Linked DNA regions of Homo sapiens. The protein of the gene in region 2 purifies or fractionates together with the protein of the main gene of each other region. This does not show direct contact. Each region holds a gene or a part of one and is shown on either strand. Other genes may lie near its edges.

Region 1 (5,897 bases), on a different chromosome or scaffold from region 2:
ACCCTTTTCTCCCTAATCAACCATATCCATTTATATTCATTCATTTATTGAATACTTACTGTGTGGCAGGCACTGTACCAGGCATTGTCCTAACCATCACCAAGTCCTATCTAGTTTACTTCCTCCATCTCTGCTGCTGTCATCTTAGTCCATGTCACATCTTCTCTCATCTGGACTACTCCAGCTACTTTTCAACCAGTCTTCCAGCATCCAACACAGATCTCTACCAATCTGTTCTCTACCAAACAACCAGAATGATCTTTCAAAACTGCAGATCTATATCATGTCACAATGTGTACCTGTTAGTCTTTCTCACACATACACATACTGGCTGAAAATTCCTCAACGGTTGCCCATGCTCTTAGGACAAAAATAAAAACTGTTAATATGGCCTACAGACCCAGTGTGGTATGGTCCCTGCTTAACTCGCCAACCTCATTTGACACCACTCTCCCCCTTGCTTTCTAGGGTCCAGCCTTATTGGCCTTCTCTCAATTCCTCAATTTCTCCACATCTTTGAGTCAGGACCTTCCACCTGCTGTTCCCTCTAACTGAACTGTCTTCCGCCTTTCTCTTCATCATTAAGAGTTCACTTCAGTCTCATTTACCAGAAGCTTTGATCTAGGACTTTGATCTCTAGAACTGAGAGGAATACATTTATGCTGTTTATAAACCACTCAATCTGCGGTATTCTGTTATAGCAGCCCAAACAGACAAAGACAGTGGCCTTCGGTGACTAGCTTTTTTCACTTAGCATATTTTCAGGGTTCATCCATGTTGTAGCACGTATCAGTGCTTCCTTTGAATTGATGAATAATATTCTGATGTACTGTTCTATCATATTTTTATGCAAAATGTATCGGGCCCAGAGAGACCTGAGTATAGGCGCTCAGCCATAACCCCACACCCTTGCCCCATGCCTGGGGGCAATTGTTTAAAGCCATTTTTTTCTTTCTTTTCTACCCTGTAGTTTCCTAACTAGCTGCCTCACCCATTATTTTCCTGTAGTTCCTGGAATATGTGATACAAAGAACAATGTATAGCCAAACAATAGCTTGTTATTTTAATGTAAATTCTTGGTAAACAACTTGGAAAGTGCCTCTTCTGCGTGGTGGCTCAGGCCTGTAATCCCAGCACACTTTGGGAGGCCGAGGTGGGCAGATCACTTGAGGTCAGGGGTTCGAGATCAGTCTAGCCAACATGGTGAAACCCCATTTCTACTTAAAAAAAAAACAAAAATACCCTGGGCGTGGTGGCTCACGCCTGTAATCCCAGCACTTTGGGAGGCCGAGGCGGGCGGATCACGAGGTCAGACCATCCTGGCTAACATGGTGAAACCCTGTCTCTTTGTAAAATACAAAAAATTAGCCGGGCGCGTTGGCGGGCACCTGTAGTCCCAGCTACTCGGGAGGCTGAGGCAGGAGAATGGCATGAACCCGGGTGGCGGAGTTTGCAGTGAGCCGAGATCGCACCACCGCACTCCAACCTGGGGGACAGAATGAGACTCCGTCTCAAAAAAAACAAAACAAAACAAAAAAAAACACAAAAAAAAACTTAGCCAGGTGTGGTGGCATGCACCTCTAATTCCAGCTACTCGGGAAGCTGACGTATGAATATCACTTGAACTCAAGAGGCGCAGGTTGCAGTGAGCCGAGATCGTGCCACTGCACTCCAGCTTGGGTGACGGACTGAGATTCTGTCTCAAAAACAACAAAAAAGTGTCTCTTGTTTTTCCCTTTAAAAACACACTTGCAACTGTTGCTAATCTGGAGCATATATTTATGGCAACTTGAATCTAGACTCTTGGGTTGCAGTCCTCAAACTTGGCCCCAGTAAACTCTTTCTACTAATTTTACAGTTGCATAATTAGTTATCTGACTCCTAGTTAGACTGTGCCAAGAGGGCAGGGACTGTGCCAATCTTGTTCGTTACTGTTAACTGCCACATTCAGCCCAATGCCTAGCTCTGAATATGCACTCGTAAGTATTGGCTGAATGAATTAATCATTTTGTTATTAGTAATAATGACTCTGCCACTCTGTGGGGTTAGTTATTATCATCTTCATGTTAGTTGGAAGGTAGGTAATTTGTTCCTTGTTTCACTGGCTCTCAATGTTTGACTCATGTCCTTCTTCCTCACCAGAGGGCACACGAGCTCCTCTAGGGCAGGGACTGTTTCTCCTTCCTCATTTTGTTGCCACAAATTCAGCTCAGGGCTAGGCACAAAGCACAGGCTGGACAGATGGGCGACTGAGGGACAAACGGAGAGTCAATCAATGTTCTCCACGACCAGGTCGCTACCTGTCTCCAGTCCCTCCTGGCCTCAGACTGTGATCCAGCAACACCGAACAGCAAGTGACTTCCCCTCTGCATACCCCCCAGGCTGCTCCTTGCCTTATGCTACCACATATGCTGCCCTTTTTGCCTGGAATGGCTTCCCCTTCTATTTACAAAGTCCAACTGATATTTTAAGTCTATGATCAGGTGCCATTTCCTCTGGAAGTCTTTCTCAGATCCTCCAGGCTGTTTGTCCTCTGGTCTCCTGCAGCCCCTGTAGTTTCCTGTCTCACAGCACTGACCACCCTATTGCCACAGTTTACCCCGACTCTGTCATCATGGGCAGGAACCATGACTGCTTAAGTGTTCCCTGTGCCAAGCAGAGGACTCAGGATATGGCAGATGCTGTTTGTCAAATGAATAAATAAATCCTGGAGAAAAAGGGCAGGCAGTCTGAGGCCCAAGACTGATCTTGCCAGGCTTCCTTTATTAGAGACTGCTTGGGCTGATGAACAACTGAGGTAAGCACTCAGCAGAGGCCTAGCCCCCTGCTGGGAGAAGGGAGATGGGTAGGGGTGTTGTCTTTCACCCACTTTGTGCTGAAGGAAATGTGATCTCCACCGGGAGAACAGGAGGCCTCACTTTTCCCAGTCCCAGTCCTGACAACTCCTCACATGGCTTGGCCTGAGCCTGGACAGATGTGCCTCTAGTCTGCCTTGTGCCCTAGGTTTCGGGTGAGCAGTTCCTCAGGCTCAAGTTTGGGGTAAGCCCAGGAGCAGGACCACCTGCTCACACTGCTGACAGGTAGGAGGCCAGGCTTCCACTTCTGAGGAACCAGAGATGGATGAACTTAAGTGCCTCAGGGGAGAAGGGAGGAAATGGATGTCACACAGGAAGGGAGGGAGGGAGGGAGCGAGGGAGGGAGGAAAGAGAAGAGACCTGGCCTCCCTCTGATATAGCCAAGGGGAGTGTGAAAGCCTCTGGACTGCTTACTTCAGGTACACTGAAAAGTCAATAAAAAGCAAAGAAAGAGTCACAAAAAACAAGTAAGTGCCGCTGTGCTGTGGAACAGGGTAAAAGACGGTAGAGAACACAACCTTGTCCCTGCCCTTCAGGAGGTGCACAATCCAGCAGTTTCAGATGAAATATAGCCCACAGACTTCTTCATATAAAGAACAGTGTGGCAAGTGGCATTCAGCTCTACTTCTCCAACCTGACCTCCAGCTTCTCTTCCACAAAAGGAGCTCCCTCCTGTGACAAGCTGCCATGGTCCTTTCTAGATCACCCTCATACCCTCCCAGACCAGAAGGCAGGTGTAGGATCAGAGTGGGGGGAAGAGGCAAAGGAAGATGAGATCACACCCAGCTGGGAGGAATCCAAGAAGGCTCTGTAAGGAAAGCAGCACTAGAGCTTTGAAAGGTGTAAGCAGAGGATAATGAATACAGATGGCAGAGGGCCATCTGTGGAGGACCCACATCCAGGGCCCATGGACTGAAGATTCCAGGGTGTCCTTAAAGAGGAGGATCGAATACCTCCCCCTGGGAGCAGAAGAGCATTAGGCTGCTGCCCTTCACTATCCAGAACTTTCCCAAGACTCTGGGGCTAAGGACAGGAGCTGGGGGAGGTCAAGTAGAGGCAGACACAGTACAGAGCCCCAGAGAGGTCAAGTGGGGAAGAAGGGTAAAGCACGACATTATTTACGAGGTCTGAGTTTTGCTCTAAATACTGATATTATTGACCATATCAATCATATACACAGTGACCCAACCATGTGTAACCTACAGTCATGCGCTACACAATGATGTGTTTGTTAACGATAGACTGCATGTATGAGGTGGTCTTATAAGATTATAATGAAGCTGAAAAATTCCTATCCTCTTGTGACGTTGTAACTGTCTCAACATCATAGTGCAACAAATGACCTTTTCTGTATTTAGGTATGTCTAGATACATAAATACTTACCATTATGTTACAATTGCCTACAGTATTCAGGGCAATAACGTGCTATACAGATTCCTAGCCTAGGAGCAACAGGCTATACCATATAGATTAGGTGTGTGGTAGGCTATTACCATTTAGGTTTGGGTAAGTATACTCTATGATGTTCACACTGTGATGAAATTGCACTACTCAGAATGTGTCCCTATTGTTAAGCAAGGCATGACTGTATGTGTAAATTCAAAGAAATAAATGAGTATGGGATTCTGTCCTGCTATAGGCAGGTCTGTTGGGCAGAGCTAAGAGCCCAGGACATTGAAGAAGAAATAAAGAGCAGCATGAACCACCTGTACAGAGTCTAGGGTACAGAAAGGCTGAATAAGGACCTACTGTAGGAATTCCAGAAAGTTTCCTTCTAGCAAGGATGGTCAGGCTCCCTTTACCCCCACTGCCCCCAGACCTGGCTCTGTTCGCAGGAAGAACTATAACTGGTGGGTTACATGTCTGTTTCCTTGAGACCAGGGCCTGGGTCACCATCCCCATCCCCCATCTGCAGTGCCCAGCAGAGGCCCACTCACTCTTTCATAATCAAGAGCTGCTTTGGGTGAGGGGGAGGGAAGGATGTCCTCATTCAGGCCCTCATCATCTTGAATCTGTCTTTACTGAAACAGAAACAGCCTCTTAACAGATCGGCCCTCAGCCTTTTCCCAATGCAGTCCATCCTTCACTCCTCTGCAAGTCAGCCTTAACTGGGTCATTCCCCTGCTCAAAAACTTCCCACGTCTCCCCACTGTGTACAGAGTAAGAGTTCAAAACTCCTCACCCTGGGCATGGCAGGCCTTGCACATTCCAGCTTCTCTCAGACAACCTTCCCTCTTTTCTGACACCCTGTACAAATCCCACCTCAGGAGCATCAACATATTCCGCAGGCCCAGCAGCCAGCCAGCATCTGCTTCCCGCCTTTGCTTAGCTTGCTCCTGGCTCTGTGGTCTTGTATGAGATGGGGGCTGAGGGCAGGTCTGTGCCTCGCTCATCTCTGATGTCCTCACATGGAGTGAAGGGAGATTCTGACAGGGTCATCCTGACCAAGTGAGGTGGGACAAGAGGAGGCAGGAGAAAAGCAGGCTAGAGCCTGGGGACACACATGAAAAGCCCCCCCAGACACTATCCACACGAGAATGAATGTTCAGAAAAATTGTCTGAATCACACATACACCGTTAAGTTCAATTACTTTCTGTATTTTTGGGATGGGTGTTTAATTGCTATTAGAAAAACATGTATTTGAAAGAACTAAATAATCAATGCCTGGCAGCTCAATGGAATATGGTAGTGGCATCCCCTGGGGGATGGAAGAGTGGATTCCCAACATTGCTGCTCTGCAAATGCCCTGCCAAAAGGGGAAAGTCGCAGCCCGGCAGCCCTTCGCAGTAGCCAACAGGTGATTCCAGGGTCAGCAAGGGTCAGTTTCCATACCCGTACTCCTGTACTGCAGCAGAATGAAGCAAAGCACATCTGTTTCTGGAGGAATGAAGATGCCACACACAGCCTGCAGTTATGAATGGCTCTTATAACAACAGGATGACATCTGTGCTTGGTTTTTAAGATGCATCATCGCATGTTTATTAAACTATTGCTCCAACATATTTATTTGGCTACAAAACAACTCCCAGCCCATATTTCC
Region 2 (6,528 bases):
TTCAGGTCCTCGCCGTTGGCCACGCCCAGGTCCTGCAGCCCCGCGAACATGGCCGAGGCCCCGGCCACCGCCCGGCTAGGCGCCCCATCCCCAGCCCGTTCCCCCGGCGCCGCCGCAGACACCCCAGAAGCCCGCTCCGCCGGGCCTCGGGGACCGCCCGAGCCCCGCTCCCCGGCGCCCTCCAGCTCGGCCAGGTCCCGCCCGCCGCGCGACTCCGCGCGCGTCCCGCAGCCGCCCACTTCCGCCCCGCACCGCCCAGGTCCGCCCGCCAACCGGCCCCCGGGAAACGCCGCCGGGGCCGCGCGCAGGTTCCTGGGAGCAGCGCCCTCACCCGGCGCGAGAGACCCCGCCCAGCCAGCCCAGCGCGCATGCGCCCACCCGGTCCCGCCCGCGCCCGGGCTTTCTGGCAGAAGAGGGCGGGTGAGGGCGTGGGGGGCGGACTCAGGGTCCGTCTGCTCCGGGAACGGACGTCGTCGCAGCCGAGTGAATTTCGTGTACATAAGCGTGGAAAACGCTCTTGCAGATCTCGCGGCAGCCACGCGCAGCGGGGACGTTTTGCCGGGGGTTGAGCTCCCCGCCCCTCTGCCCCGCAGGGGCCGGACACAGGCGCAGACTCCCTCCTGAGCGTGGGTTCCTCCGCGTGAAACGGGCACGAAGCCCACCCCGGCGCTGTCGCCAAAACTGAGATCTGAGCGCCTTCAGGGGGCCGGGGCCTGGCGGAGACCGGGCCCGCAGCGGGAGCGCGAGCGACGGCCGCCCTCCCAGGCACCGGGAGGCTGTGGCGCCCACCGAGCTCCGCGGAGCCGTGAAGGAGAGTCCAGGTTCCACAGTGTCCCTTCTTATCCCAGGCGGGTGGGCTCCCCGGGCCTCCCCGCCTCTCCAGCCCGCCGCCCTCCCGCAGGCTGTGCCGCGCCAAGCCCCCTACACACACCCTCTCTCTTTTCGGTCTCCGCTGCTGAAATTTTCTCTAGAAATTTCTTTCCCGCTGCCCAGCAAACTCTTGCTCTTCCTTGAAGGCTTCTTCCTCCACCACCTCCTCCAGGAAGCCCTCCCTCCTCAGCCCAGCTGGAGGAGATCGCTCCATCTTTCCTGCCGCTCCCACTCCTAGCTTTGGGTCTCACCAGGGGTGCCTGGTGGTGCAGCCGTGAGCAGAGCTCCTGTTCCCACAAGCCGGGCCGAGCTCCCAAGGCCATGGCTACCACAGCTCTCTTGCCGCTGGCCAAGTTGGTCAGCCCTAGGGCGAGGGTTCCAGTGCCTTGATCCAACCCCCAGCTGGTTCGGTGGCAGAGGAGGACAAGGGTCACAGCACACACACAATCCTGAGCCTGGGATTCCTCTCTGAGAAAGGGGGTGGTGCTGAGGCCACAGAAGCAGCTGCCCAGAGCCTTTTTGAAGGGGTTGAGCTCTGGGCCTGGTCTGGGTCCTGGGTCTGGGGAGGACCTGGGGAGGTGCGGGTGACGGCACCGCAGGTAAGGCTCCTGCAAGGTGGCAGCCTTGGGGCCCGACCCTGGGTAGGAGGGCAGGCCAGTGATGACAAGGGAGGCCCCAGCCAGGCGAAGTTGCAGGCAGGGGCAGTGCAGGGTCCCAGCAGGTGAAGGCCCCGGGAGTGGAGTCTGCAGGGCCCTGGGCCAGAGTGTTCAGGGCACAGGTGACTAAGCCCAGCCAGGTCTTCAGCTCAAGGCCTAGGGGAAGTGGGGCTGGGCCCTGGTGAGCAGATCCCTGGGCCCTTCCTGAGGTCTGGCCAGGCCGACCCCACCTGGAGGTGGCGGCTCAGGGCATTTGACGCCTCCTTCCCAGTTCCCTGGCTCGGCAAGCAGCTGACCCTCAGGTGGACAGCAGCTAGACCAGGCCCCTGAGTGACACGGCTGGGTGGGGGTGTCCCACAGAGCCCACCTCCCATCTCGCTCCAGGCTAGAGCTCAGGGTCAGTCACAGGCTGCCACCCTAGAGAAGAGAGCACCTTTCAGGGGCAGCTGAATGGAGACCCCTCAACAGGGAAAGCCGGAAATGACCCAGCGGCAGCCATATCTCTAGGACCGCCCCCGGGTGAAGGACAGACAACTGCACACCACAGAGCTCGGGAAAACCAACAGCATCTCAGTGTAGCGGGGAGATGGGCAGATGGGGGATCCAGGCTGGGCCAGCCTTGTCCACAGCCCATAGAAGGGTTGGCCAGCCAGAAGGGTGCATCGGGGTGCCCAGAGGGTCAGAAGGCCAGGCTGGGGCCCCAAGTCCCAGGGGAGGCCTGGGAAAGCCCCGGGGGAGGCCATGGTTCCACTCGGTGGCCGGGCCAAGCAGGTTGTGCCCAGCTGGCTCTAGAGCGTGCAGAAGGGGCCTGTGTCGTGGCGCTTGGGTCTGCGTACACCCTGGATGACCACGCCAGGCGCCGAAGGGAAGCGTGAGTTGCAGTCCTCCACGTGGTAGGCGGCTGGGCCAGGGGTTCGGGCTGCCGAAAGAGAAGGCTGGGAGCCCCACCCAGGTAGCAGCCCCAACTCAAACCTGGCTCCCAGTTCCCACCCCCGGCCCCTGAACCCTTGTCCTCACATTGCCCACCCATGCCCCATCCCTAGCCCTCTTCTCTCCAGGCCTCCTTACAGGTGCTGAGCCAGGAGGTGAACGCAGGGGAGCGGCTCATCGAGAAGGCCGGCGAGCGGGGGCTCTGCAGGCGGCTCCCAGGAAGGATATTGTAGGTGTTGGGGCCAGGGCATCTCTTGCCAGGTGCCTGCAAAGAGGCCTGAAGCAGGGACTGGGGCTGCACCCTGAGGCCCAGCCCCCTAGCCCCAGGCAGCCCTAGGTGGGTGTGGCCTTCAGGTGTCTTGGAAGCGGAGTGGCAGCCTCTGAAGCTGAAGGCGGGGAAGGCGGGCCGGCTGAGCAGCTGGTAGTGGGCTGGCGAGGGCCACTGCGAGGGGGTAGGAGACGGGCTGCAGGGCAGGGTGCTCCCCACGGACCCTCAGCCAGCCCCCCTTTGGCCCCACTGGAACCCCCAGCCCCCTGCCTGCGTGGACTCCCCGCCCCCTTCCTGCCCAGCCCCCAACCTTTTGCTCTTGGTCGAAGTCAGCTTTCTGCGTGAAGGGGCTTTCGCTCTGGAACCACAAAGTCTGCCATGCCCTGCGGCCACCGCCCTCTGTAGTTGGAGGATGGAGAGAGAGAAGGCTGGGAGCCCCACCCAGGTGACAGTCCCCACTCGAACCTGTCTCCCGGTTCCCACCCTCGGCCCCTGAACCCTTGTCTTCACAATGTCCACCCATGCCCCAGCCCTAGCCCTCCTCTCTCCAGGCCTCCTTACAGGTGCTGAGCCTAGAGGTGAACGCAGGGAAGGGTGGAGGGGCCCTCAGGCCGTGGGGGTTTCAGCACAGAGGCAAAGGCCCCCATTCCCAGGGTGAGGGACAGGCCCGGTGGTTGGGCCTCAGGGAGGGGACACACACCTCGGCCCTGGTGCTTGCAGCCGATGCTGTAGTGGGGGTGTGGGGAGGACTCTCGTACGGACGGGCTCGGCACCTGGTACCTGGTGGGGCTGGGGACTTCCAGGTCAGCTGTGATCAGGGGGCGTTGCTCCAGCACTGGCCACAGGAAGCAAGCTCTGGGCCTGGGCTCCTTTCAGCGGGCCCCTCCCACAGCCCCCCAAAGACCAGCTTGGGGGTGGGGTGGCCAGGACCCTCACTCACATAGTTCCCTCAGGGTCTGGGTGTAGGTGGGCAGGGACTCCTGGGGGGTGCCCGTCTGTAACCTGAGGCCAACTGGGATCTCCTTCATCTTTGGGGGCTGTGTCTCATCCCAGGCCATCCCCGGCTCCGGGCCCAACAACAGCACAGATGCCTTGGGCCTGCAAGGGAGACCAGCAGCCACTGTCTCAGCCCCCGGCCGCTCCCAGCCACATGCCCCACAGCCTGTCCCCTCTATTGTCCCTCAGCCCCCGGCTGCTCCCAGCCACGTGCCCCACAGCCTGTCCCCACACTGTCCCTCAGCCCCTGGCCGCTCCCAGCCGCCTGTCCCCTCTACTGTCCCTCAGCCCCTGGCCGCTCCCAGCCGCCTGCCCCACAGCCTGTCCCCACACTGTCCCTCAGTCCCCCAGCCGCCTGCCCAGCAACCTGCCCCCCACACTGTCCCTCAGCCCCCTGGCCACTCCCAGCTGGCCCGCCCCTTCTCCCCCTCTCCGCCAGTTACTGGGTGGGCTCTGGTTGTGTCTGCCTCAGGTGACCATGGGTCCAGTGTTTGCCTCCATTGATGTAAAAATTTGCCAGGAATTTCACTGCCTTCTGGTCAGAATTCATCATCAGAGTCTCCTGGCTCTCTTCCCCAACGGCACCACGGAGCTCTGTGACCTCACTGGTAGGCCCCTCTGTTGCTGGGACTCCTGAGGAAGACACATTGTCTGGCCCTGGAGGGGCTGCCCCGGGCCCCGACCCCTGGTGGGCCCCTCCCCCACTAACTAGATGATCAGCGGGTCCGCCTGGGCCAGGACCCCCAGCCTGCCCCGGTGACTCCTGGCCCAGCCCTCTCCCTCCCCGCAACCTTTCCAGCCTTCTCCCCTCTCCTGCACCCTGGGGTCTCCTGGGAGTCTGGGGTCCACTCTAGCAGGTCTGGGAGGACTGAGGCCTCAGCAGAGGGGGTGGAGGGAACAGGACCCACCGGCATCCACCAAGCCCTAGGAGATGCCCAGCTGTGTCTGGCCAGCCAGGACCCCCTGGGGGTAGGAGGGAGGGGCCCAGGAAGGCTCCCTGGAGGAAGAGGAGGAGCCGCCACCCCATCTGGATTTCCACTTAAGGGAAAAGCAAATCCACATCAGATGGGTCTGACACCAGAGGCAGGCCGGGCCTTGGAGCCCAGCCAGGGCTGGGGTGTGAGGGCCTACCTCTCACCTGGGGGCACAGAGGCTAGAGGGTGTCACAGATGGCCGGGCTGCCAGAGCTGCAAAGGAACAGCCAGCCTGTGTGAGCAAGAGCCCGTGTGGGCACCAGGGCCCTCACTGTGTGGTCTCTGGAGCTGACCACCAGTTGGTCCCAGCCCTGACCTTGGCCCAGAATCCACCAGGGCAGGGCCTGTGAACAGGGCCAACTTGGGGCCCTCCTCCGCCCTCTCTGGATGCCTCCCCTTCAGCACTGGGCCTGCCAGGCAGACAGATGGACACGTGCTTGAGGAAACACGGGTTTTATCTGGGCGAGGGGTTCACGCCTGTGCTCCGGGGCCCCTGCCCAGGTTGTGCCGGGTTCAGAGTTGACTGGCTGCCAGTGGAACAGAGTGTACTTTGCTAATGAAGCCCTTGTCATTGGACAGATAGGCTCCTCCAGGTCCTCCCTGCCCTGTAATAAACGTTGCCACCGTGAATGGTGCTGCTGGACATCCATCCTCTCCTTGAGAAGGTGCGTGGGGGAAATGCTCTCTCAGTGTCCGGCTCTGCGCCCACACCACCACAGCCGTCACAGAAGGAGGCCTCTGCCCAAATGTTGAGGGAGGGGGGTTGTTCCCCACACACCAAGCTGGGTGTCCTCTAATTCATTTCCTTCACCATTTACCTGGAGATGGTGTCAGATCCCACAGGGTGAGAGCTCCATCCCAAGAAGGCCTCCAGACACAGATAGGGGCAGGGCCTCCAGACACACACCAGTCGCAAGCCTGGGCCCCTGGAACTTCTGACCAACTAGCTTCAATTTGGGGTTCCTGTGACACCGTCTTTGGGTTAATTTGCTGGAGCCACTCATAGAACTAGGGAAGTTATGACGTTTACTGGTTTATTGTAAAGGGTATTGATTGCAAAGGATACCAATGAAGAAGCGTAGAGAGAGGCACGGGGAGGGGCTGGCGCTTCCATGTCCTCGCTAGTTGCCGCCCTCTGGGAACCTCCAGGTGTTCCCCTGTCCAGAAGTTCCCTGAGCCTCAGTCCTCTTGGGATTTTACGGAAGCTTCCTGATGTCAGCATTCCTGCCCCCAGGGCTTAGGTGGGACCTCTCCTGGAAGGGTCTTAAGACCCACAGTCAGAAAGGTGAGAATGTTAGCGTCCTGCCTTGGGGCAGGTGAAAGGAGGGCAGGAGGTAAAAGTCCCCCGCCCGCACCCCCCAAGCATCACCCACCCAACATTCTAACAAAAGGCCCTACCAAGGGCTATGGGAATATGGGAATTACCAGCCAGGAACGGTGGAGGAAAACCAGCGTCTACCAGAATGCCAGACAGCTTCTTAGGAGTGGAAGCAATGGTCCCAGTTTGCAGTGTCTTGTATGGACGTGATCCATACCAACTTGGTTTCCAGAAGGCACCACCCAAATTAGAGGCCCTTCTCACTGTGACCCTGCCGGCAGTAAGCCTCAGAAACTGCTCTCAACACACAGTCAGCATGTATGTGATTATGGTCCTGCTTTATGCCCTTATATTTACGGACTGCGGTCTTTTTTTCTTAAAAAGGTCATATTGGCCGGGCACAGTGGCTCACGCCTGTAATCCCAGCACTTTGGGAGGCCGAGGTGGGCGGATCACGAGGTCAGGAGTTCGAGACCATCCTGGCTAACATGGTGAAACCCTGTCTCTACTAAAAAT
Region 3 (5,897 bases), on a different chromosome or scaffold from region 2:
GCCTTGGCCTCCCCAAGGGCTGGACTACAGGCATGAGCCACTGTGCCTGGCCTATGAAACAGGATTTTGATGGCATAGTCACTCTCCTTGGGGGCAGAGAGAGTCAGGGGGATTTGGGTGCACACGATTTGTATCTCCTTTTTTGCCATCAAAATGTTATGTTCCATAAAACCTGCAATAACGACATCACATATTCACCCACTGAATGATAGCTTTGTATTGATGCAACTCATCATTAGGGTCTGGGCTACAGAAGCAAGAATCAACCACAAAAGAACTAGACATCAGACAGTGGGCACTGCCTTTCTTTTGGGCTCATAGCCTTTTTTCAGTAAGGCCCACCCATGCTGTTTTCATCTGATGCTGGCTGTGTGGGACAGTTTTAATTCTACATTTCTATAACACATGTCCAATTCATTTTTTTCTCCCTACACAATCCCTATTTGGATTGGAAGAATTGTCTGGCCATCAGACCCGAGCCCCACAATACATTTGATGAGCTATGAACTGTAGTTCCTCCTCCTGCATCTCCCCCAAACCCCCACAAAAGACAGCAGCCAGCCTTCTGCCTGGAAAAGAATCTTCCTTTGGGCACTGCTATGCCGAGGAAATGGAAGAACGTGGGTGTGTATTGCTGAAGCCTGAGGCTGCCAAGCCACCCATGACTCAGAGGCGCTTCCTGGGGATCAGCATTGGCTTTTCCTCCACATGACTTAGGAATATTGAGTTAGTGCGATTTGAGTTCCCAGGCTCACCTCCAGTCCCCCTCTGCAGCAGCAGGGAAAAGGGGGAGCTTTCCTGTCCAGTGATCATGGAACCTGGGCACCTGTCCCCAACCCCAAAGGCACGATGTACCATCCCTTCACCCATCCCTGCCACTCCCTGCTCACTGGGGAGGTGACCTGAAATATTTAAGGGGGACTCCATGAGTTTGGGGGGTCTCAATTCAAACTCCTTCCTTCAAATCCAAACTTCAGGAAGCAGAGGAAAGATAGAGACACTGAAACTCCACATCCTTCTCATGACAGAGGAAATGAGCATCTGAAGGTGATTAATTGTCTTTATTGGAGGAAAACAGGAAGTCATCAATCTCATTATCATTATGATAGAAATCTTGATATGTATACATGATTGTCAAGGCAGAGAATCATTTGCTACATAGACCCATGAACAATTTTGCAGTGCCGCAAACCTATGTGGGTTAAACTTCTTGCAGAGTTTATTACATGCATGGAATAAATTCACAGTTTCCCTTCTTTTGGACAAACATGTTTTTATGGGAAAATTGAACCAATTGCAAGCCTGGTAATAGTAGATGCGGGGACATTCCTGGTTTTGATGTTGTAATTTTTTGGGAAGCATGCTCACTGTTGGGGGAGCTGAAAGAAGGGAGATTACATTATGTGTAGTGACAAAAGCCAATTGAGAGATTGTTCCAATGTTTATTCTGGACAGAGGGTACCTTTGAGGTCTTCTCACCTGAACGTGGGACTAAGATAAATGTTCTCTGAAACATGGCGCCCCATCTTTCGAAGCAAAGACTCTGCTGCATGCAATGTCGCTGCATTTCTGCCACCATTCGGACAGCATTTCATGTCCCTCTGATAGGGCCAAGTGCCCCGGGAAGGAGAGTGGCAGGTGTCAGGGCTGAGAGACAAACATCCGAGCTGATGTTCTTGTTCCTTTTTAGCTCTCTCGCAGCCTGGCTGCCAACCACGTCCCAGGGCCCCTGTGCCCTGAAGTGCAGGGCTTCCAGGAGAGCCTGGGAATCTGAATCTGTCTAGATTAAGATTTTCCTCCGAGAAGCAATTTAACTAGAGTTTGGGGTTTCTGAGCCCCTGCTGAAGTCTTATCTCTAAGAGTAAAACCAACTCCTCCTCATTTTCTTTTTTCCTGTCCATAAGAAAATAAAATCACCTTTAAAATAACATGGCAAATCATCAGAAGACATAATAATCGAATGAGAAGTTCCCCGGAGACAAAAAGGTTAAAAAACGGATATGGCGAATGCAGAAGCGGTGTTATAGTACAAAGGGTGAATGCAACCGTTTGTCCCTTTATACAGACACCGAGAAGCCATTCCACAGTTTGCTTTGTCCACAAAACCAGACTCGGCAGCCGCATGCTGAGCGTTTGGCTTCCAAATGCACAGCCTTTTTGGGTTTGCAAAAGCGGAGCTCCCAGAGCCACAAACTGAGCTGCTCCTGCTGGAGGTGGCGGGGAAGTCTGGGAAGGGCTGACTCCTTCCCACTGACTCTGGAGGCATCGGGAGGTGGCCGGGCCTCGGCCAGCATGCAGGACTGACTTCACAGTGGGGCTGGGGGCCCAGAGCTGCAGACCATGATGCCCCGGGACCACCGAACAGGTGCCAGGTGAGTGGGGCGTGGGCCCTTATCTTCCTCAGACCGCCTGCCTGCTCCCCAGAGTTGAGGTTGTCAAGCTAACTCATCTGCACACTCATTTTCTTGGAGTCTTCAGGAAAGAAACCCTCCTTTTAGGAGTCTGTTTGAGCTTTTCTATCTCCACATTTTCAATTCTGAACATCGAAAGACTGGAATATCTTTTGCAAATGTCAGGCACACCTGCAGCCCCAACCGAGGACCAGGTGCCCCTCAAAAGGGTGGTGGATCACATACAGGTATATACATCTTTTTTTTTTTTTTTTTTTTTTAACAAACTGAACAGTGTTTGGTCTGGAATGTGTTTAAGGAAAAGGCAAAGTTCGCAGAGTGTGGGTAGACAGAATAGGGAAGAAGTACAGTTTCAGAAGAACATGCAAAGGTTTCGTGCACTGGCTGAATTCAAGGACCTTCAATTAATTTGCCAGAAGTGATTGTGCAAACCTGGGAAAGAGGACATCTTACTTCTGTTTATGAAAAACGGGAGGAGCTTCCCTTTGCCCGCACTTGCCTTCCTTTCTCATATCCAAAGGAATCCCAGTCGTGTGCTTGTTAAATTCTGCGAAGCAGCGAGGGCTCTGGCTGAAGCTGCGGCAGTGGCCCTACTTCCACCTTCAGCCCTAGAGCAATGGTTCCAGCGTGGCCTCCCCAACGCGAAGACTCAATTCTGGCCAAGGTTCTGGGGGAGAGGGAGAGGTGAGGGGCCACGATGCTTTCAAAAATAAAGTCTACCTGCACTGGGATATCATCTTTCCTTTCTGTTTAAAAATGCTCATAAAATAGCAAGCCCCAGTGGGTTAATCAGGTTAAGCTGTCATTCCACAGGGGAGAGGATCAATCCACTTTCCAAAGGGGATCACCTGGGCTCCCCCCATTCCCCCCACCCCGTGTGCCTGGTGTTCTCGGCTTCTGTCCCTCCCACCTACGATTCATCCAGGGCATGATGGACACTAGGGTAGACAGATGAGTGGGATGAGTACGGGGTAGGTAAACCGAGTCCGGGGCTCCCTAGGCCAGATTCCTTTCATCCTACTACAGATATTTCCTATGAGCCCAGCCTTGGCCAGCATGGCCATCTTTTTTGAGACGGAGTCTTGCTCTGTCACCCAGGCTGGAGTGCAGTGGCACGATCTCGGCTCACTGCAACCTCTGCCTCCCGGGTTCAAGCGATTCTCCTGCCTCAGCCTCCCGAGTAGCTGGGATTACAGGCACGCACCACCATGCCCAGCTAATTTTTGTATTTTTAGTAGAAACAGGGTTTCACCATGTTGGCCAGAATGGTCTTGATCTCTTGACCTTGTGATCTGCCCGCCTCGCTCTCCCAAAGCGCTGGGATTACAGGCGTGAGCCACTGCGCCCTGTCCACTGTCCATCTTCTTTTGCTCGCTCTATCCTGACTGCCGGGGCCCTGGACACTACACAAAGAGCTAGCTGGAGAGTGAGACTCTCTCAAAGGCCAGCGGTGGCTCAGAGACTCTACACCGTTCTCAAGGTCAGATGCTAGAAGTGACCAGAATTGTGGCCATGGTCAAGAACGCAAAGCCACTCTTCCTTTTTTTAACTTTGTATGGCACGCTTTGCCATAGCTCTTTTCTTTTAAAAGAAGACCTGAAGGGGTAGAATGTTTTCTAGTCTCCGACAGAGGCAGGGGTAGGAGGAACTGGTGAAAATCAGCCACTGTGCACTGCCAGAGCCGTGCATGGTCCTGGGGGTTGCCATTTCTCTAACACAGCAAACCCCGTCTCTCCTCAAGGGCTTTGGTGGTCATTGAGCTTCTCCTAGGTGTGCCCTGCGCCTCTGCACCACTTCATTCTGAGGCTCCGGACCCGTGTGCCCGCTGGGAAGCAGAGCCGTAGAGAGGCAGACAGCTGCCCAGACTCCAGACTCCAAGGCCACCTCTGTGAAAAGGGCCAAGCTGCTGGCCTGTTGGTGCCCGCTCACTGTTTGTCTCAATGAATAGAAACTCCTCCTATTGCCTCACGTATGAGATGAAGATCCGGGAAGCCAGGGAGCCCAGACAGGCAGCTGAGGGAAAGGCCACTCCAGGCCACTACTTCAACATTGAATACTCCAAGTGAGGAAAAGAGAATCCACTTGCTCTGAGAAGGGATAGTGACCAAATGGGGGACTTGGGCTCAGGAAGGAAGCCTGTGATGGGGTCTACGCGTCCACCCTTAGCCTCAGCCCAGCACCCTGGGTGCATGTAGAAATGCTCAGCCTCTACAGGTGGACTCTGACCTTGGTGCGGGTCCTAGGACTCTGAGACCCCATTTGTCAGACCTTCACGAAAGGCACATTCTAGGTTCTCTTCCTGTTTTATAAGAAAACAAATCATACCAAGCGCAGTGCAAAGACAACCTCTTTTTAACATGAGAGCTCTCTCAAAAGCACAAGAGCGCCTCTCTTTCTCTGAAGCAATAGGAAATTAACCCAAGCCTGGTGGGATCAGGACAGTACAGGCTTCCTGATGTCATGCTCAACAGTTGACTCTTGGGCTGAAACCAGTCACTGTCTCCTCGCACGATGTTGTTGAGACCCGGCGTGTGACAGGCCAAGCATGGCCAAGAACTGACCCGAACAGCGAGGGGGGCACCTGCACCACGGCTCACCTTTCAGAGGTTCTGCACTTTTTGGGTGAGGGATACTTTCAAACTAAGTGCATATAACATGCACCACATGTATCTGCTCCTGAAAATACTTCAATCACCAGTAATGGAACTCAGCTTCAAATGCTGCTTTCTGAATGCAAATGGTTGTATATAGCACACAGCACAAAGGGCTATTCATCACTATTCATGTACTCATCCTAGGTACCAGATTCGGGTGCATTTTCAGCGCTTGCAGCCTTCTATTACTTTGTCATGCACTGTATGAACTCGAATGTTTCCAAGACACTTCTTAGTAAGCAACCGCCTAGTTCTCCAATACTGCTTATAATATTCATTCATTGCATGGCCAACTCAGGTGACACTTGCTTCTTAACTGGGTCTAATGTCATCTTATAGACCTTTCCAGGGTTTTTAGATTTTGCAGAGTGACAGCTTGATTTTTCACCCTGTGAGCATGCGTGGCAGATGCCATGCAGAATTCCTGCCAAGCAGTGGAGTGCCTGTGAAGTGTGCGGGGACAGGGTAGACCAGCTGCCTGTCTTCCCAACTGCTCTTCTCTGTGCCTGCACTGCCATTCTCAGGGAGCAGGATGGAGCTGCTGTGCCTAATAACATTGTGTGTGTGTGTGTGTGTGTGTGTGTGTGTGTGTGTGTTTATTGAGAGGGTGGGGGGGCATCACTCAACATTCAGCCTGTACATACTCAAAGGTGTAGAAGTGACAAAGATGACTCAACCAACAGGACTTCCCATGACTGGCCAGCCAGAGGAAGAGGGCATGAGGACACAGCCAGCAGCGTTACTGGGTCGTGATGACGCAGACCTGCCGGGACACCCCCGTGGGCTCGAGGCATTGGATGGGCCTGAGAGCTGAAGCAGGGGCACTTGCAGG
Region 4 (5,897 bases), on a different chromosome or scaffold from region 2:
TTTTAATTCCAAAAAATGCAACATACTTCAAATCAGTGCTTGGTGCTTTAGTGAAGAGCCATGCCAAATAACACAGTTGGCCTATATGAATTACAATCAAATATGTAATTCTTCTGTTCAATTCAGGTTGAAGAAGCCAGTGAAACTTTACCGCTTTTGATATTTGCATTCAGCATATAGGAGTCTAGAATAAGATACTTCCAGATTTGGGGGGTTGTATTTTTTAGGATGAAATGAGCATAAATGGATGGGTTAACCATTTGCAGAATGCTACTATATAAAGATGTTTACAAATTTTCATTATAAAGGCTTAACAATATGCCCAATGCACTTAAGATAATGACCATCTAGGCTCAGGATTGAAAAATAACTGAAGAGCTGTAACCCAATAAACTTGTGTGAACAAAATATTTGTTACTGGCTGGCATGGTGGCTCACGCCTGTAATCCCAGCACTTTGGGAGGCTGAGGTGAGTGGATCATAAGGTCAGGAGATCGAGACTATCCTGGCTAAAATGGTGAAACCCTGTCTCTACTAAAAATACAAAAACTTAGCCGGGCGTGGTGGTGGGTGCCTGTAGTCTCAGATACTCGGGAGGCTGAGGCATGAGAATGGCACGAACCCAGGAGGTGGAGCTTGCAGTGAGCCAAGATCGTGCCACTGCACTCCAGCCTGGGCAACAGAGCCAGAGTCTGTGTCAAAAAAAAAAAAAAAAAAATTTGTTACTGGGTGAGTGTCTTCATAGAGGTGAAGTAAAAGAGATTTTCCTCTGTCCAAGGAAGAGCGTTCTGTGATCAGCTGGTGAAAGTATTCTGCTCTACCTGGGAGGCATATTTTTATACCAGAACTGTCACAGTTCAATGACATGTCACATTCAAGGTTAGCCAGGATTCTGAGCTCTGACTCTGCCCATTGGGCCTCCCACACAAACTGTCTCACAGCAGAAGGGATACAGTGACCAGCTATCATAGAATTCTGGTCCTGCTGCTACACTGCTCCAGCCAAAAGTTTATAAACTGCCTTCTGGCTTAAGCGTCAGCCTCTTTTGACATCAGTTAAAGAAAATCAGTCACTAAGTCGAGCCAACTCAAATTAGTTTACAATCAAAAATCAATTTTCTACTGGAAAAGTGGTGGAAACAGCCTAAGAGTCAATGTCACAAAGAGTAGGTGTGAATCCTAGTTCTGCCACTCACTAGCCTTGACTAAACTACTTCACTTCTGTGCCTTACCATCCATGCTTTCATCTTCCATACGTGGGTATAACAGCGACTCCCCCTCATTTACGTTGTGAAGATAAAAACTTACATCAGATAAGGCACTTAATAAATTACAGCTCTGCAGTGACCCACTTCCACCTGAAACCCCTGAAACACTGCATGGGCAGTGGGTAATCGTCCCTCTCTGACATAGTTTTGAAAACTGTTTTTCTTATTTAAAAGTAATACATTCTCGCTGCAGAAAAATTGCAAAGCAAAAAAAAAAGTACAAAGAATTGGGGAAAAAGAGGTTTTTTTGGGCATATTTCTAACATTCTGGCATATTTCATTTCAGCTGTTTTGCTATGTTTATTTTATGACATATTTTTAGAATATTTACAAAATTTTTAAAAAGTGTAAAGAAGAAAAGCAAATACCATCAACTCTACTACCCAGAGCCAATCAATTCTATTATATTGGCATATTTCCCTCCAATGTTTAGCCTAGGCATTTAAAAAATGTAACTGACTGATCATGGCCAGGCTGGAATCCTCTTTTTCAGATTAATGTGATACATTTCTATGACTCACATTTCTCTTTTAATGAAACATTACTTACTGTTTTTACCATCTTTAAGAGTCATGTTTCTGGTATACGAGATATTCAGTCTTCTTCCACTGCTAGACGAAAATGGAGAGAATTGATCTAGAAAAAATTTAAAATTCAGTAACAAACTTATGAGTATCAAGCCTATGAAATTTACACCTTACAAAAGAAAACATAAAATGCAAGTGCTGGCCGGGCACAGTGGCTCATGCCTGTAATCCCAGCACTTTGGGAGGCCAAGGCGGGCGGATCATGAGGTCAGGAGATCGAGACCATCCTAGCTAACACGGTGAAACCCCGTCTCTACTAAAAATACAAAAAAATTAGCTGGGCATGGTGACGGGCGCCTCTAGTCCCAGCTACTCTGGAGGCTGAGGCAGGAGAATGGCGTGAATCCGGGAGGTGGAGCTTGCAGTGAGCCAAGATTGCGCCACTGCACCGGATCCAGCCTGGGCGACAGAGCAAGACTCCGTCTCAAAAAAAAAAAAAAACAAAAAAACACACGTCCTAAACTGGCAGCTCAGATGTGCTTTTTTTGTTCTTCTTGTTAAGTTTAAAGGGCTGGTTTTGTTTACATCTTATGAAATTTCATGTGAAAAATTCTAGCTTCTATTGAAGAATCTGAATATTTGCAATCTAAACTCTAATCCCATAGTGGCATAAACTGTACCACAGTCACCACCTTTTGATGGGGCAAATTCATTCCAGGTCACCAGTCTCTACTATTCACTATTTTTCTTTCACCTGGCCTCTTTTACTCTTTTATGTTTTTATGTTGTTGGCCCAGCCCTTATAGGCCTTTTTTTTTTTTCTTTTTTGAGACGAGTCTCGTTCTGTCGCCCAGGATGGAGTGCAGTGGCATGATCTTGGCTCACTGCAACCTCCACCTCCTGGGTTCAAGTGATTCTCCTGCCTCAGCCTCCAGAGTAGCTGGGATTACAGGTGGGTGCCACCACAGCTGGCTAACTTTTCTATTTTTAGTGGAGATGGGGTTTCACCATGTTGGCCAGGCTGGTCTCAAACTCCTGACCTTAAGTGATCCACCCGCCCTGGGCCTCTCAAAGTGTTGGGATTACAGGCATGAGCCACCGCGCCTGGCCCCTTATAGGCATTTGGGTGTATATCCTCTATTGGACAATATCCAGGAGCTTCAGCATAGCTAAGCTGATGCAATTTATTCTGAACCTCATATCTGTACCAATTATAAACTTTCAAAAGGAAGGTCACAGTAAGACAACGTTCCATTCTAAAAACGTTAAGGTCAGGCTCAGGAATACCACATGGGACGTATTTAGATGCATTTTCATTCAATGTAAAAGGATAAAATGAGGATAGAGCACAAATCTTCTAAAGATGCAGTTTTCGGGACTTAAAACATTTTACATTTTAAGCTTTCCATACAGCTATCTTGAATGAATCTAAATGAATTCAGAAATTAAAGATTCTAATGATAGGATCCTATAATAATACGGGTTCAGTATCACTTACCCAAAATGCTTGGGACCAGAAGTGTTTTGAATTTCAGATTTTTTTTTTTTTTTTTGGATTTTGGATTATTTGCATTATATTTAACTGGCTTAGCATCCCTGATCCAAGTATCTGGAATCTGAACTGTTCCAATGAGCATTTCCTTTGAGCATCATGTTAGTGCTGAAAAAGCTTCCGATTCTGGAGCATTTTGGATTTGGGGATTTGGGATGCTCAAACTGTATAGGGTAATATAATAATTACCAATAAAAGAGAAAAATAGATCAGATTTTTAAAAATTCTGTTTGCTCCGAAAGTCAGAGCTAGCCTGAAATGCAAAAAGTATGTGAGAGCTGAGATTTTGTATCAATTTAAAGGGCAGAACTTTTTTTTTTTAATACTTTAAGTTCTAGGGTACATGTGCACAAGGTGCAGGTTTGTTACATATGTATACATGTGTCATGTTGGTGTGCTGCACCTATTAACTCGTCATTTACATTAGGTATATCTCCTAATGCTATCCCTCCCCCCTCCCCCCACCCCACGACAGGCCCCGGTGTGTGATGTTCCCCACCCTGTGTCCAAGTGATCTCATTGTTCAATTCCCACCTATGAGTGAGAACATGCGGTGTTTGGTTTAAAGGCAGAACTTTCTAATGGAGAACTGACTGAAACTGTAAGCTACCTGATGAGGTAATGAACTTCCAGTTTCCCAAGGTGTTAGGAAGAAGTTGGGCAACAGCTTAGTGGGTGTGCTGGGGTAGGGATGCAATGCATATGTGTGGTAGCCAGGATGAACCCCACTATGGCCCTTCCTATGCTTGGATTCTATGACACTATGAAGTCTCTAGGTAGACATTCAATCACAGGATGGAAAAAGCGGAAGTAATTCGACAATAAGTCATGGGTAACCCTGGGGAATCTAAGTCTCCAGTCTTAGATTGTCTTGAGACTCTGGGACAAAGGGAGTTGCTGCAGGTACAGAGGACAAAACAAAGTAGGGCTATGAGGAGTGGCGAACAAAAGAAGTGATAAGAAATTAGTGTAGGATGTGGGGAGAACAAGTGTTTGACTGAAAAGAGATCCATTTCCTTTTTTTTTTTTTTTTTTTTTAGATGAACTCTCGCCCTGTTGTCCAGGCTGGAGTGCAGTGGCGCGATCTCGGTTCACTGCAACCTCCGCCTCCCGGGTTCAAGCGATTCTCTTGTCTCAGCCTCCCGAGTAGCTGGGACTACAGGTGCGTGCCACCACACCCAGCTTATTTTTTGTATTTTTAGTAGAGACAGGGTTTCACCATGTTAGCCAGGATGGTCTTGATCTCCTGACATCATGATCCGCCCACCCTGGCCTTCTAAAGTGCTGGGATCACAGGCACGTGCCACCACGCCCAGCTAATTTTTTGTATTTTTAGTAGAGATGGGGTTTCACCGTGTTAGCCAGGATGGTCTTGATCTCCTGACCTCATGATCCAGCCGCCCTGGCCTCCCAAAGTGCTGGGATTACAGACGTGAGCCACCGCGCCTGGCCAAAGAGATCCATTTCTACAATGTTAGGTGATTAGTTACACTCCAGTTAATGGGTTAAATAGTGTTTATGGGTGCATCCATGGTAAGTGAAGAGCTTTCCTTCATACTAAAAAACACATCTGAAAAGAATGGTGTCAGTCACTGAGAGGAGAAAAGAGAGGTCAGTGTGCCATACAGAAAGAAAAGCATGTTCAATGATGATTTGCAAAACTTGACAAGCAGAGGAAAGAGAAAAGCCTTCCATACCATGTGCCTGAAGAGTGAAAGTGTCGGTCATGGCTTTCTCCTTGAGGATGAGACCCAGGGCTGCCTGGCATAAAGACTCTTTGGCTGCAGCCTTCCGACTGAGCAACAACTGTTTGTGGTGTTGAGGGATGAAATCAGTGTGCACGTTCCCAGCTTCAAACTCTGGGTGGCCAGACAGGTTGAGTAAGAAGTCAATGTTGGTGTGCAGTCCAACAATCTAGGAAGAGAATAAACCCCCAGTTCCTGCTGAGTGGGGAAAACAATATGTTCAGAAAACCATCTGCTCTTTTTATCTAAGTATTTTCTACTGTGAACAACTCTTAGGAAAAATAAAAAACCTACTAAGGTACCATGTGGCAACAGGACAATTCTCAGGAAAAAAAACACAAAAAAACCATCTCACTATCACTATGTCCATCCGCTATTACTATATCCATCTGGACTTGACACTAAAAATTACATTTTAATATGACAAAGAGGATGCTGGAAATACCGAGGCACTTACTTGACTCAGGTTAGGAACATAATAAATGTTAAGAAACATAAATGAAATTCATTTGCAAGGTATCGAAGACTTGCTGCTCAGAACACTTCCACAGAATAGGAAGACTGCAAACAGCAAGCTGGATTGCTATACTGGGGAGAGGATAGGATTAAATGCCCTCAAAAGAGCTTCTTTCCAACAATAAAATCCAAATTTTATATACCGATACAAAAATTTTAAAAGGTATAAAATTAACCCAAATACACCAATAAATGGGATCAAAAGTAAAACCAGCTATCTGAGCTTTGGGTTCATTCATTCACTCATCCATTCCTTCATTCATTTAACAGCCATTTCCTGAGCATCTCTT
Region 5 (5,897 bases), 3.6 Mb from region 2:
CGCTCGGGAGCCAGTCAGCCCCAGGTGCAGGTGCTCTTAGGCAGGAGGAGGGTGTCACCTCCAGCCTGGCACAGCTGGTGACGCCTGGCACTTTTGCTGCAGCTGCTATGAGGAGGGCAGGCTAGGCCACTCAGGGAAGCTGTTCTTCCTTTACAGCAATTAAACCCAAGGTCAGGGCCACAGGAGGGAGTCTCGGGCTCCGCTCTGGGAGTCAGAGGGCTCCTTCTTGTTCCTAGCAGCTCAGGACTGGATGAAAAAAATAAAAAACAAACCAAGCTTTTTCTGCGACAGGAGCTTTAGGAGTGGTGCTTCTGAGCCATGTGTGCACCTGCAGGGCTGAGAGCTCTGAGCTGCCCCCCGCAGGCAGGCAGCATGGAGAGCTGGTGGCCTTCAGATGTCCACGGGCATGCACAACTCAAAGCGGGCATCTGGCCTTGCTAACAGATACCTACGAGGCAGAAACGCCTTCCCCATCTCGGAGCCTTTCCCATCAATGAGCAGGTTTCCCTATCTTAGGCAGAAACCTCCGTTACCCCACTTGGGTGCTAGAAAATGTTTAACAACCAGCTCTGGGGTGAGGTGGGTGTGACTGTAGCATTTGCCCATTTCCATGGTGCAAATGCTCTGGACAGCCCTGATGGAGGGGGCAGGAGACGTGCACCGGCCGCTCTGGGTGCATCGACTGGTTCCCCGGCTGCCTGTCTGGATGCCGTTTAACCTCGGAACCTCGGCTTCCCTGGTCACGTTGGTTATGGACCCATCCCTGACTCCGGAGAAAGGCGAGCATTACTGTTCTTTGAAGAAATGGCAAAGGAGCCTCCACTCCCCAGCCCACCCTGGCATGGAGCCCATAAACTCCGGTTTGGCTGGGCCCCAGGGCTGTGGCCCCCAGGACCATGGCCCCAGGGCTGTGTCAGGAGGCCCTGCCCACCGTGGGAGCCATGCCATCACAATCCCCACATATTAAGACTCACTCTGTGCAGTGGCCTGTATGACAGCCCTGCATGGTAGGTGAGTGTCCACATTTTATAAATGAGGAAACTGAGGCTCCAAGAGAGGATCCTTATCCAAGGTCACAAAGCAAGTAAAAGGCAGATCCAAAGGCTAGTGGCATCAAGTGTGTCCCCAGCCTCCCAGCTCCACCGCCGGACTCAGCCCCATGGGCTGCCACTTCCCCACAGCTCCACAGGACCATGGTCTTGCCCGAGGCCTGGCGGTGTCCCCTCCCCATTGGGCCTGCGAGCTGGGCCTGCGCATGTTCTGCAGCTCTTGCTAAGGCTGCTCCGTCTCCAGCCTACCCCTCCTCATGGCTTCTCCCAAGTGCTCGCTCCCTCCCCAATTCCCTCTACGTGTCCATCAGGGGCTCAGGCTGGAAGGCTCTGGAGCCAGGCCAGCACCTCCCGGCCTCACTTAGGGCTTAGGCCAAACGTCAGATCGGCTCCCATGGAGAGACACGACCCTCCTCACCGGCACCTCTACTTGCAGTGCCAGAAAGATGGGAAAAGGAGGTGGAGGTAGAGACCACCCCTTCCCCTTCTGGGGAGGCTGCCCACCCCCTGCCCCACCACCCCTGGCCACCCAGAGCTGTCCTGGGACTTGCTCCTGGGGGCAGTGCCTGCTCTTTCCAGCCTGTTCCTGCCTCCTGCAGCCAGGGGTCAGGGTCACCTGGAGGGGGTGGGGTTGCCTGGGGTCAGGGGTGTCGGGGGTGAGGAAAGAGAGGATAGGAACATGGGTCTCTGAGTCTCTAGTCGGTCACCCTGGGGGCCACCCCTGCACCCCAGGCAAAGGGTGGGCTGTGGGTGGCCTGAGGTTTGGGTCTCTGGTGTGAGGAGCTGGAAGGTATCAGCCTGGCTGGCTGGCACCTCCTTCTAACCAAAAAAAGCCTGGAATCACCAAAGTCGGATTCTTCCAGAAAGAAAACAGAGAGCAGCTTTGGCTCTGCCCAGGCACAGCTGGGGAGTCCTCCACCTGCTGAGGCCTCTTCCTCCCCCTTCTCCTTCTCCCTCCCTCCTCCCTCTCCCTCCTCCTCCTCCTTCCTCTCTCCCCTTTTTCCTTCCCCCTCCTTCTCCTCCTTCCTTCCTCCCCCTCTTCCCTCCTCCCTCCTTTCTCTTCCCTCCTCCTCTTCTGGACCACACCCGTGCCTCCTCCCTATGCCCGGCACACTCAGGGTGCAGTGCAGGGAGCTGGTTTGGAGCTGGTGAGGGATCGGCATCTGCCTTAGCAGGGCCAGAGAAGGGGACTCACCGGCCCACCGCTGGGGTCATGGATGTAACCGTAGGCGATGGTCTTGTCGATGGCGAACCCAAAGTCAGCCCTCCGGACATGGCCCACCACTTGGCCGTTCCTCCAGATGGCCTCCAGGCCAAACATGGGTACTTTGCTGGAAGAAGCAGTAGAGAAAGCTGGGGCCCCAGAAACCGCAGGGTGGGGACGCGTCCACAGCGGCCTGGAGGAGAATGGGGGGCTGCATGATGCACACCCAACCGTGGCTCCAGGCAGATAGGGCTGGCCTACTAGGACTACGCTGGTCCCCAGAGCCAGCCCAGCACCTGGCCTGGACAGCAGGGCTCGGGCTTCGAGTGAGTAAAAGGGATGAATAGAAAACATCAAAACCAGGAGTGGACTTTGCTGTTTCCAGAAGCGAGCCCCGTATATTTGGGAGGGCCCCTGCTTCCGATTTCCTTCCATTGTTGTTCAACTCTGGTTTTTTTTTTTTTTTTTTTTTTGGTGCAGTGGCACAATCTAGACTCACTACAACCTCCGCCTCCCAGGTTCAAACGATTCTCCTGCCTCAGCCTCCGGAGTAGCTGGGATTACAGGCACCCACCACCATGCCCGGCTAATTTTGTATTTTTAATAGAGATGGGGTTTCATCATGTTGGCCAGGCTGGTCTCGAACTCCTGACCTCAAGTGATCTGCCCACCTCAGCCTCCCAAAGTGCTGGGATTACAGACTTGAGCCACTGCGCCCGGCCAGGTTCATTTTTTTTATAGTACAATACATACTTTATTCAAAGGACTTTACTACATGTAATACATGAATGCTCACTGTAAAAGTTTTAAAGATTAAAAGCAGGAAGACAAAAAAAAAAAAGTAAGCTAAAATCAAAGAAAGGCCAGCACCCAGGGCTAACTGGTAACATTTTGTTGCCAGTCTGCAGACTTCTCCCTGTGCAATGGGTTATCACGGCGGCAGCTATGCAAAGGGGTCCCTGAATGGAAGGGCTGGGGTGATGTTGAGGGCACCTCCTGCATCCTCAGCCTGGAGTCACTGTTTGGGTCCCACCTGTCCATCAGATTAGGACGAGGCTGGAAGGAGGTTTCGTAAACATCTTTGGTGTCACCCTAGTTTCTGTTCTCCACGTGAGGACGCTGAGGCCCCAACTGCCCGGAGTCCCAGAGCAGTGTGGCAGGGCTGTTCTCTGTGACTCCACTGCCAGCATCTTCTCTGCGCCTGTCCTGGAACTGCAACAGTCCAGAGCCGCGGCGCAGGGCAGCTATTATGCAGCCTGACAGGAAACCCCTGAGCAGAGCGCACTGGGTCACAGGGGCCGTCCGAGGCCCTCCTAAACCCAGACATCAGGCTGCAGGTACTTCATGGAGGGCCAGAAGGTCGGGGTCAGGCAAGCAGAAAGGACCCATGGATGCTGACCTGTCTGCAAGGGGCCCCCTCTCCAGGAGCTGAGCTGATTCAGGGAGCTGGACAGGCTGTCACACAAGAGACAGAGCCTGACAGGCACCCAGGGAGAAGCCACAGGATGACGACGACACGGCTCCACTCACCGTCCCTCTCCCTCCCTCTCCCTCCCTCTCCCTCCCTCTCCCCCACCCTCCCTCTCCCTCTCCCTCATTCTCCCTCACCCTCCCTCTCCCTCACCCTCATTCTCCCTCAGCCTCCCTCTCCCTCTCCCTTCACCCTCCCTCTCCCTCTCCCTTCACCCTCCCTCTCCCTTACCCTCCCTCTCCCTCGCCCTCCCTCTCCCCTCGCCCTCCCTCTCCCCTCACCCTCACCCTCCCTCTCCCTCACCCTCCCTCTCCCTCACCCTCCCTCTCCCTCACCCTCCCTCTCCCCTCACCCTCCCTCTCCCTCACCCTCCCTCTCCCTCACCCTCCCTCTCCCCTTACCCTCCCCCTCCCTCTCCCTCACCTTCCCTCTCCCCTACCCTCCCTCTCCCTCACCCTCCCTCTCCCCTCACCCTCCCTCTCCCTCACCCTCCCTCTCCCTCACCCTCCCTCTCCCCTTACCCTCCCCCTCCCTCTCCCTCACCTTCCCTCTCCCCTACCCTCCCTCTCCCTCACCCTCCCTCTCCCTCACCCTCCATCTCCCCTCACCCTCCCTCTCCCCTCACCCTCCCTCTCCCTCACCCTCCATCTCCCCTCACCCTCCCTCTCCCTCACCCTCCCTCTCCCTCACCCTCCCTCTCTCTCTCCTTCCCTCTCCCTTACCCTCCCTCTCCCTCACCTTCCCTCTCCCTCACCTTCCCTCTCCCTCACCCTCCATCTCCCTCACCCTCCCTCTCCCCTTACCCTCCCTCTCCCTCACCTTCCCTCTCCCTTACCCTCCCTCTCCCTCACCCTCCATCTCCCCTCACCCTCCCTCTCCCTCACCCTCCCTCTCCCTCACCCTCCCTCTCTCTCTCCTTCCCTCTCCCTTACCCTCCCTCTCCCTCACCTTCCCTCTCCCTCACCTTCCCTCTCCCTCACCCTCCATCTCCCTCACCCTCCCTCTCCCTTACCCTCCCTCTCCCTCACCCTCCCTCTCCCCTCACCCTCCCTCTCCCCTCACCCTCCCTCTCCCTCACCCTCCCTCTCCCCTCATCCTCCCTCACCCTCCCTCTCCCTCGTCCTCCCTCTCCCTCCCCTCGTCACTCTGACACTCCTTTTGAAGGCTCCAGAAATCTGGGAGAAGTGGCAGTGTTTGCAGCTGGCTGTCAGCTCCATGTCCACAGAGCCCAAAGCCGCCCACTTCCCCGGATACCTGTGCTTCAGACCCCCGTGGGCACCACGGGAGGGCCTCTGATCAGGGCCTGATCTTCTCAGACTGCCCTGCAACCCAAGTGGGACTCGGGTTCCTGGAATCCAAACTCTCCCAGTAGCCCAGGGATCACGTGCGCCGGGCTCCAGCAGCATGCTCAAAGCCACTCTCAGTGGGGAGAGCAGGAGGTCAGGTCGCCCCCAGGCAGAGTCTCTCCTTCCACCTCTGCCGTGTGACTGGGCGTGAGTCCCCTGCTCCTTGGCACCATGTGGTCTCCATTCGTGAGTGGGGATGACGGCCCCAGCCGAGCCCCTCTCCCCCTATCACAGGGCTGTGGGGAGACTGAACCAGAACGGGATGGGAGGTCGTGTTGCAGTGACTGGGAGGTCAGGCTCCCTGGGTTCACCCTCCCAAGGCCCTCGGCCTAGACCTGCCACAGAGGGGTGGCCTGGGCTTGGCTGCACCTTTCTCTTTTGAGACCTGCATGGGAAGAGTGTGGAGCCTTCTCTACCTCCCCACGGGCCCTGCTGGCCTGGGAGGGGCCCCAGGTGCGCAACCTTACACTGGCCTGGTTTGAATCCCAGCATGTTGGGATCCTCACGCTTGTAATCCCAGCACTTTGGGAGGCCGAGGCAGGCAGATCACGAGGTCAGGAGAGTTCAAGACCAGCCTGGCCAACATGGTGAAACCCCATCTCTACTAAAAGTACAAAAATTAGCTGGGTGTGGTAGTGCACGCCTGTAATCCCAGCTACTTGGGAGGCTGAGGCAGGAGAATCACTTGAACCTGGGAGGCGGAGGTTGCAGTGAGCCGAGATTGCGCCACTGCACTCCGGCCTGGGCAATAGAGTGAGACTCCGTCTCAAAAAAAAAAAAAAAAAAAAGAGCAAACTCTCTCTGCCTTTCTGCCTTTAACAACATGT

The links.
Region 1: the proteins of STPG3 (region 2) and CLPB purify together in Homo sapiens (affinity purification with mass spectrometry; one large-scale study listed by BioGRID and IntAct). This does not show direct contact.
Region 3: the proteins of STPG3 (region 2) and CAMK1D purify together in Homo sapiens (affinity purification with mass spectrometry; 2 studies listed by BioGRID and IntAct, with this or other methods). This does not show direct contact.
Region 4: the proteins of STPG3 (region 2) and MCCC1 purify together in Homo sapiens (affinity purification with mass spectrometry; one large-scale study listed by BioGRID and IntAct). This does not show direct contact.
Region 5: the proteins of STPG3 (region 2) and SARDH purify together in Homo sapiens (affinity purification with mass spectrometry; one large-scale study listed by BioGRID and IntAct). This does not show direct contact.

What each region holds. Positions count from the first base shown.
Region 1 is NC_000011.10:72,423,373-72,429,269, forward strand, and holds part of CLPB (mitochondrial disaggregase), read right to left. Parts: intron 1-5,897. UniProt on the Homo sapiens protein: Functions as a regulatory ATPase and participates in secretion/protein trafficking process. Has ATP-dependent protein disaggregase activity and is required to maintain the solubility of key mitochondrial proteins.
Region 2 is NC_000009.12:137,249,032-137,255,559, reverse strand, and holds STPG3 (protein STPG3), read right to left. Parts: upstream 4,275-6,528; 5' UTR 4,274-4,274; coding exon 4,164-4,273; exon of another isoform or gene 3,823-4,163; coding exon 3,665-3,822; exon of another isoform or gene 3,560-3,664; coding exon 3,425-3,559; exon of another isoform or gene 3,124-3,424; coding exon 3,035-3,123; exon of another isoform or gene 2,899-3,034; coding exon 2,595-2,898; exon of another isoform or gene 2,462-2,594; coding exon of another isoform or gene 2,446-2,461; coding exon 2,315-2,445; coding exon of another isoform or gene 2,097-2,314; 3' UTR 2,077-2,096; downstream 1-2,076. Other genes in the region: NELFB (negative elongation factor B), read right to left, coding at 1-194; CIMIP2A (ciliary microtubule inner protein 2A), read left to right, coding at 5,324-5,359.
Region 3 is NC_000010.11:12,830,691-12,836,587, reverse strand, and holds the end of CAMK1D (calcium/calmodulin-dependent protein kinase type 1D), read right to left. Parts: 3' UTR 1,043-5,897; downstream 1-1,042. UniProt on the Homo sapiens protein: Calcium/calmodulin-dependent protein kinase that operates in the calcium-triggered CaMKK-CaMK1 signaling cascade and, upon calcium influx, activates CREB-dependent gene transcription, regulates calcium-mediated granulocyte function and respiratory burst and promotes basal dendritic growth of hippocampal neurons.
Region 4 is NC_000003.12:183,032,175-183,038,071, forward strand, and holds part of MCCC1 (methylcrotonoyl-CoA carboxylase subunit alpha, mitochondrial isoform 1 precursor), read right to left. Parts: intron 5,261-5,897; coding exon 5,044-5,260; intron 1,904-5,043; coding exon 1,817-1,903; intron 1,811-1,816; exon of another isoform or gene 1-1,810.
Region 5 is NC_000009.12:133,664,491-133,670,387, forward strand, and holds part of SARDH (sarcosine dehydrogenase, mitochondrial precursor), read right to left. Parts: intron 2,381-5,897; coding exon 2,245-2,380; intron 1-2,244. UniProt on the Homo sapiens protein: Catalyzes the last step of the oxidative degradation of choline to glycine. Converts sarcosine into glycine.